2 linked regions of the Homo sapiens genome follow. The protein of the gene in region 2 purifies or fractionates together with the protein of the main gene of each other region. This does not show direct contact. Each region holds a gene or a part of one and is shown on either strand. Other genes may lie near its edges.

Region 1 (3,922 bases), on a different chromosome or scaffold from region 2:
GTTGCCCAGGCTGGAGTGCAGTGGCGCGATCTCAGCTCACTGCAACCTCTGCCTCCAGGGTTCAAGTGATTCTCCTGCCTCAGCCTCCTGAGTAGCTGGGATTACAGGTGCGCGCCACCACGCCCAGCTAATTTTTTTTTGTATTTTTAGTAGAGATGGGGTTTCACCATGTTGGTCAGGCTGGTCTTGAACTCCTGACCTCATGATCCACCCGCCTTGGCCTCCCAAAGTGCTGGGATTACAGGCATGAGCCACCGTGCCTGGCCTGTGGTGGTTTTAAATATGTCCATAAGTTCTTTAATATTCCTTCCTCTTCAAGAAGTGGAATTTAAGTCCTTCCCCTTAGTGTAGGCTACATCTAATAAATATGTGATAGAAATGAAAAGTGTGTGACTTCCAAAGATAGGTCATAGAAGACACTGTGGATTCTATCTTGTTGTCTCCTTTAAATTACTCACTCTGGGGGAACCCAGACGCCATGTCATGAGGACACTCAAGCAGCCCATGGAGCGAACCATGTCATGACGATCTGAGCTCTCCCAATAACAGCTGGTAAGGAACTAGAGGCCTCTGCTACCAGCCATCAGAGTGAGTCATCTTAGAATTGGAAACTCCAACTTCAGTCAAGCCTTCCAATGTCTCCAGCCCTGGCTCCCTGGCCAATGTCTTGACTATAACCTCATGAGATACCCTGAGGTACCCCCACTAAACCACTCCCAAATTCTTGACCCACAGAAACTATTGAGGTGAACAAAAATAACTATTTTGTTATTTAGCCATAGATAATGTAAACACTATGCCAGTGATAACTACAATTAGAGTACAAGGAGAAAAGACAGAAGGAAGACAATAATTACTGACCCCTTACTCTGTGCCAAGCACATGCTGATGCCTTTTCCTATGCTGTCCTACTTAATCCTCACCACCCTACAAAGCAAGTACTATTTCCCTCCAATTTACAGGTGATGTAACTGAGGCACAGAGTCGAAGTGATTGGCTCAAGGTCCCACTACTTGCCAATAGCATTCCCTAAGGTTTACCTAACTTGAAAGGCTGTGTTCTTCCCCCCATCACTCTGCTGAACTCCTACCTCTCCATCTTCCTACAATGCACTTTCCCAATGCCTGCGAGACCCTTCTGCAAGAGCTTATCATGGGGCTCAGGTGTGAGGCCAGCACTGCTATCAATGACAAGGACCCAAAAGGCAGGCCCTCCTTACCTTTTCCAGTCACATAGTAGGCCCCCAGTTTGTAGCAGCTATCACTGTGCTGGTTCTCTTCACAGTTAAACTTCAACACCTTGGCAGCCTCATCAAAATTCTTCCGGATCCCTTCCAAATAGTCCACCAGCCGATAGCAACCTGCGAGAAGAGGGCAAGGGTTGTTCTTCATGTCTGGGGCTGCTGCTCGCAGTGGGGACTTGGGGGTAGGGGGTGCCCAGGTGTGGCAGGCCAGGTGATGTCTTTTAAGACAGCCCCTGTCCTCCTGATGTGTGGCAAGTTGGCCTTACCACAAAGAATGTAGGTGGTGTTTAGCCATTCCTACAAATGGCATTGTCTCCCCACAGCCATGGACTGAGCAATGCATGGCTTGGGGAGACCTCAGCCCCTGCATTGGCTCTACCACTCACCAGCCCTTCTGCTCCCTGTCAGCCACGCCCAAGTATCCACTGACTTCCATGATTGAAACTTTGCTAGTTTTGGAATCTCTCATGAAGTTAAATGGTAAAAACAGTGAAAACCTAAAAGGCTCATAGGCTAGTCTTTGTAGCAGCAAGAAAAGGGTGCTGGGCCAGGCTCGGTAGCTCATGCCTGTAATCCCAGCACTTGGGGAGGCTGAGGCAGGAGGATCACTTGAGGTCTGGAGTTCGAGACCAGCCTGGACAGGGTAAAACCCTGTCTCTACTAAAAATGCAAAAAAATTAGCCAGGAGTGGAAAAATATAAAAAAATTAGCCAGGTGTGGTGGCGCACACCTGTAATCCCAGCTACCTGGGAGGCTAAGGCAGGAGAATCGCTTGAACCCAGGGGGCGGAGGTTGCGGCGGGCCGAGATCACGCCACTGCACTCCAGCCTGGGTGACAGAACGAGACTCTGTCTTAAAAAAAAAAAAAAAAAGAAAGAAAGAAAAAGAAAAGGGTGCTGTAATGACTATAGCTTACTCCTCAGCCAGGGTAGGAACATGAAAGCCAAAGAGAAAGAGTAGAGGCGGCAGCTTCTAATGAAAATAGGCTCTACTTCCTTGGCAGTCTCCCAGTCCCAGTAAACCTCTTTCCTTAATCTCTCTCCCCTCTTCTTTACCCCCAGTGACAACATATATCTCTCATTCATTTTCGTTCAACAAATATTTGAGCATCTCTATGCATCTATGTACCAGACATGGTTCTAGATGCTGAGAATATACTCATTTGCCCTCCTAAAATTTACATTCTAGGGGAGGAAATACAATAAATAAATAAATGAACAAAATTTATTCAAACAGTAATAAATGTTATAACAACTCAGAAACAGGAAGTGAAATACTGCATGTCCTCACTTATAAGTGGGAGCTAAATACTGTGTACACATGGACACAGGGAGTGTGGAATAATAGACACTGGAGATTGGGAAGGGTGGGAGGATGGTGAGGAATAAAAAATTACCTAACAGGTACAAGTGCATTATTTGGGTGATGGTTGGTTACATTAAAAGCCCAGACTTCCCCAGCAATTTGGGAGGCCGAGGCAGGCAGATCACCTGAGGTCGGGAGTTCTAGACCAGCCTGACCAACATTGAGAAACCTCGTCTCTACTAAAAATACGAAAATATTAGCCGGGCATGGTGGCGCATGCCTATAATCCCAGCTACTCGGGAGGCTGAGGCAGAGAATCACTTCAACTCGGGAGGCGGAGACTGCGGTGAGCCGAGATAGCGCCATTGCGCTCCAGCCTGGGCAACAAGAGCAAAACTCCATCTCGAAAAAAAAAAAAAAAAAAAAGCCCAGACTTCACAACCAGGCAATATATCCATGTAACAAAACTGCACTTGTACCCCTTAAATTTATACAAATAAATACATAAATGCTATGACTGAAGTAAAACAGGATAACTGTTTGCTGTCAACTTTGGGTGAATGGCTAACAAAGACTGAGCCACTGGGGAGGGGCTCACCAAGGACTGTGACCTCAATAACAAGAAAGCACTAGCTATTTAAAGACAATGAAATGGGAGTGGGGCAGGGATTTGGAAAAAATTTAAAAATAAAAAATAAAAAATGAAATTAAAAGACAATAAAATGGGCAGGGGCACAAAGTCCTGGCACAAGGAACAGTAAATACAAAGACCTGAAAGAATAAGTTTGGCACGAATAAGGTACAACATGGCTGAACCAAGGAGGAGGGTCAGGAAATGAAGAAGGAAGGTAGGGACCAGACCATAGGCCTCGTGAAACATAGGATGGAGTTATGATTTTTTCCAACTGAAACAGTAAACCACTGGAGGGTTTCAAGAAAATAAGTAATATGATTCAGGCCAGGTGTGGTGGCTCATGCCTGTAATCCCAGCACTTTGGGAGGCCAAGGCGGGTAGATCACTCGAGGTCAGGAGTTCTAGACCAGCCTGGCTAACATGGTGAAATCCCGTCTCTACTAAAAATACAAAAATTAGCCAGGCTTGGTGGCGCACGCTTGTAATTCCAGCTACTTGGGAGGCTGAGGCAGGAGAATCACTTGAACCCGGGAGGCAGAGGTTGCAGTGAGCTGATATCGTGCCACTGTACTCAAGCCTGGGCAACAGAGCAAGACTCAGCCTCAGGGAAAAAAAAAAAAAAAAAAAAAGCCAGGCGTGGTGGAACACGCCTGTAATCCCAGCTACCTGGGAGGCTGGGGCAGGAGAAGTACTTGAACCTGGGAGGCAGAGGTTGCAGTGAGCTGAGATTGCACCACTGC
Region 2 (3,922 bases):
CAAATTGTAAACTTCTATGGTTTAACTTCACCAGAAGGGTAAAGGGCTCCCCACCTGCCACCTTGTTCTATAAAAAAAGTATACTCTGATTACTAGAATGGATTTTTAAAATTCAATTCAAAGATTCAATAACTATCAACATTTCTAAACACTGATTTTTCTTTTTCTCTTTTTCAAATGTTTTTTAATATCCTGCAGGTAATAACACTGATTTTTCTAATACTCAGAAACATCTACTTAGCAGTTGTGATACTAATTTGCAAAATGTAATAATGTTATACAAATATAAGATACTACTAAATACATAGTAGAAATAATTGCATGATTCCTGATATTTATATTCAAGGTATAAACATGACTGATTTCGCTGATACTACAGAATAAAAAAAATAAAGCTGCTATGTAAAAAATTAAAGAATATCTCAATTAGATATTTTTGTTCCCAATCTCTTTCAGACAGATCTATGAAATAATATAGAATATACTATCAATATGTTCTTTCATATGAAGTGAAAAAAATGGGATTTAAGTAGTGAGATAATTTCTATTTTTTACTTTTTTAAAAAAATAGACAGGGTCTTGCTATGTTGCCCAAGCTGGTCTCAAACTCCTGGGCTCCAGTGTGCTTCCTGCCTCAGCCTCCCAAAGTGCTGGGATTATAGGCATGAGCCATTGTGCCTGGCCTGTGGGATCATTTCTATTGGTTTTATATCAGTATTAATTAATAAGTCAATCAATTAATTAACCTTAATTATTTCTTTTTCTAAATAAGTATCAGCTGATTTAATCTCGCCCAATTGAATGCGTCTCTTTTGGTTGATCAATGCGATAGAGAAACTCTGCAGGTAAGAAGTATCCAAGATATTCCACTATATCTGGAGTAGTGTCATAATGGTAGTGTCCACCTTCTCCATGACGACTAAAAAAATGAGTGTGCTCCAGTCGCAAATCAAACCCCTAAGATAACAGACAAACAATATGTTAGTACTCAAATTATTGATTAGAGTTTAAGGGGGAGGGATAACTTTTTACGTTGCAATAGTTTTTATTTTTTAAATAGGTAATACATTCACATGTTCTAAATTCAAAGGGGGCAAAACGATGTATTCAGTAAAATGTATCTTCTTCTCTCTTGCCCTCACCACTCACTCCCCTTCCTAGCAGGTAACCAGTGTAAGCATTTTCTTGTATATCCTTCCATAAATACTTACTTTTATTTTTACTCAAATGTAGTATTTTGTACACACTTTTCTGCATGTAACTTTTTTTCATGTAACAATATAGTTTTGAGATCTTTGTATATGAAATCATAAAAGAGCTTCCTCATTCTTTTATACCTGCATGGTATTCTATTGCGTATGTAACTTCTCAACTGACACTTGCATTATTTCTAATTCTTTTGCTACTACAACAATACTGTAATAATAACCTTTTAACTAGTAATTTTACACAATTATGCATATATTTAAGTATAATATCCTAGGCATGTAATCACTGGATCAAGATATGACCAGGGTAGGCGGAGTAGCTCATGCCTGTAATCCCACCACTTTGGGAGGCTGAGGCGGGCGGATCACTTGAGGTCAGGAGCTCGAGACCAGCCTGGTCAACATGGCGAAACCCTGTCTCTACTGAAAATACAAAAATTAGCCGGGTGTGGTGGTGAGTACCGGTAATCCCAGCTACTCAGGAGGGTGAGGCAGGAGAACCACATGAACCCAAGAGGCGGAGGTTGCAGTGAGCCGAGATTGCATCACTGCACTCCAGCCTGGGCAACAGAGCGAGACTCTGTCACAAAAAATAAAAAAAAGAGAAGATATGACCAATATTTTAGTAGGTATTTGCTTTGAATTGGTCTGTAATATTTTTTCTAGCGTATAGTATTATAATATAATGAACACCAAACAAGATGACAGGAGACCTGAATCCTAGTTGTGACTCTACTAATTGTTTTTTTTGAGATGGGGATTATACTGTTACCCAGGCTGGTCTCAAACTTCTGGGTTCAAGTCAGCCTCCTCAGTAGCTAAGAATACTGGGGCATGTGACCATGCCCAACTACACCTGCTATTTAATAAAATAATTTTGGGTGTTATTTAAAATGCTTGTGCCTTCATTTTCTCAAAGGTAAAATCTGCTCTGCCTAACTCATAGGATGGTGAAGAGCTCCCTTATCTTCCAAAATAATTCTAGAGGCTACCCTCATTCTTAAATAACAACAACACATGGCCGGGCATGGTGGCTCATGCTTGTAATCCCAACACTTTGGGAGGCAGAGGTGGGTGGATCACCTGAGGTCAGTGGTTTGAGACCAGCCTGACCAACGTGGTGAAACCCCGTCTACTAAATATACAAAAATTAGCCAGGCATGGTGGCAGATGCCTATAATCCCAGCTACCCGGGAGGCTGAGGCAGGAGAATCGCTTGAACCCAGGAGGCGGAGGTTGCAGTAAGCTGAGATCCTGCCATTGCACTCTAGCCTGGGCAACAAGAGTGAAACTCTGTCTCAAAACAACAACAACAACAAACACAAAAGTGCCTAGTTCTTAAAGATTATCCTAAAAATCAAGCATTATCATTGTAGTATAATATAAAAAACAGACACAGACTTACTGGGTCTCTGGAGACAAAAACTGGTAGACAAACCAAAGGAGCTTTCATTTCATAAAAATGCAACCATTTATTCACTTCTTCATCAGAGTTCAAGGGGCAGGAAGAAAATTCTGCAGGCTACAACAAAAGATAATTACATAGGTAAACATACTGAATATTACTAAGAATTAAAAATTTTAAAAATATATTTTACTTATTTATTATTATTGTTTAATTATACTTGAAGTTCTGGGTTACATGTGTAGAACATGCAGTTTTGTTATATAGGTATACACGTACCCTGGTGGTTTGCTGCACCCATCAACCTGTCACCTACATTAGGTATTTCTCCTAATGCTATCCCTCCCCTAGTCCCCCACTCCCCGAAAGGCCCCGGTGTGTGATGTTCCCCTCCCTGTGTCCATGTGTTCCCATTGTTCAACAACCCACTTATGAGTGAGAACATGGGGTGTTTGGTTTTCTGATCTTGTGATAGTTTGCTGAGAATGATGGTTTCCAGCTTCATCCATGTCCCTGAAAAGGACATAAATTCATCCTTTTTTATGGCTGCATAGTATTCCATGGTGTATATGTACCACATTTTCTTAATCCAGTCATTTGAGTTGGTTCCAAGTCTTTGCTATTGTGAATAGTGCTGCAATAAACATATGTGTGCGTGTATCTTTATCACAGAATGATTTATAATCCTTTGGGTATATGCCCAGTAATGGGATTGCCGGGTCAAATGGTATTTCCAGTTCTAGATCCTTGAGGAATCACCACACTGACTTCCACAATGGTTGAACTAATTTACACTCCCACCAACAGTGTAAAAGCATTCCTATTTTTCCACAACCTCTCCAGCATCTGTTGTTTCCTGACAGGGTCTGGCTCTGTCACCCAGGCTGGAGTGCAGTGGGATGATCACAGTGGGCCTGGAAAAAGCACCACAAGTTTCCACTCTGGTGTGTGGGATTGGCAGCTGGGCCCCCAGCCTTCAGGCCTTCCCTGGCCCGAAAGTGGGGCCTCACCGGAAACCCGCCCCCTTCTGCCCCGGAACCTGTCTGCCTCCTGCTGCCGATCACGGAATCCAGGCTGTAGGTGCCAAGGGGTGCCTGAAGGCCAGTGGGGAGCTGCTCTCAGCCGCCGCTCAGCTTCCCTTCTACGCTCGTGTCAGCGCCCCAAATCCAGAAGGGGCCGGGACGGCAGGGGGCTGGTGTGTCAGCAGTGCCCTGAGCGTGTGCACACCTGGCTGGGCTGCGACAGCGACCGGGCTCTGCCTGACTTTGCTCCTGGATCGGAGCAGGCGCCGACAGCAGGGAGAAGCCAG

What was found.
Region 1: the proteins of C11orf54 (region 2) and COA7 purify together in Homo sapiens (co-immunoprecipitation; 2 studies listed by BioGRID and IntAct, with this or other methods). This does not show direct contact.

What each region holds. Positions count from the first base shown.
Region 1 is NC_000001.11:52,691,508-52,695,429, forward strand, and holds part of COA7 (cytochrome c oxidase assembly factor 7), read right to left. Parts: intron 1,361-3,922; coding exon 1,220-1,360; intron 1-1,219. UniProt on the Homo sapiens protein: Required for assembly of mitochondrial respiratory chain complex I and complex IV.
Region 2 is NC_000011.10:93,758,550-93,762,471, reverse strand, and holds part of C11orf54 (ester hydrolase C11orf54), read right to left. Parts: intron 2,731-3,922; coding exon 2,614-2,730; intron 958-2,613; coding exon 784-957; 3' UTR 1-783. UniProt on the Homo sapiens protein: Exhibits ester hydrolase activity on the substrate p-nitrophenyl acetate, in vitro. Regulates DNA damage and repair by regulating HIF1A degradation via chaperone-mediated autophagy (CMA).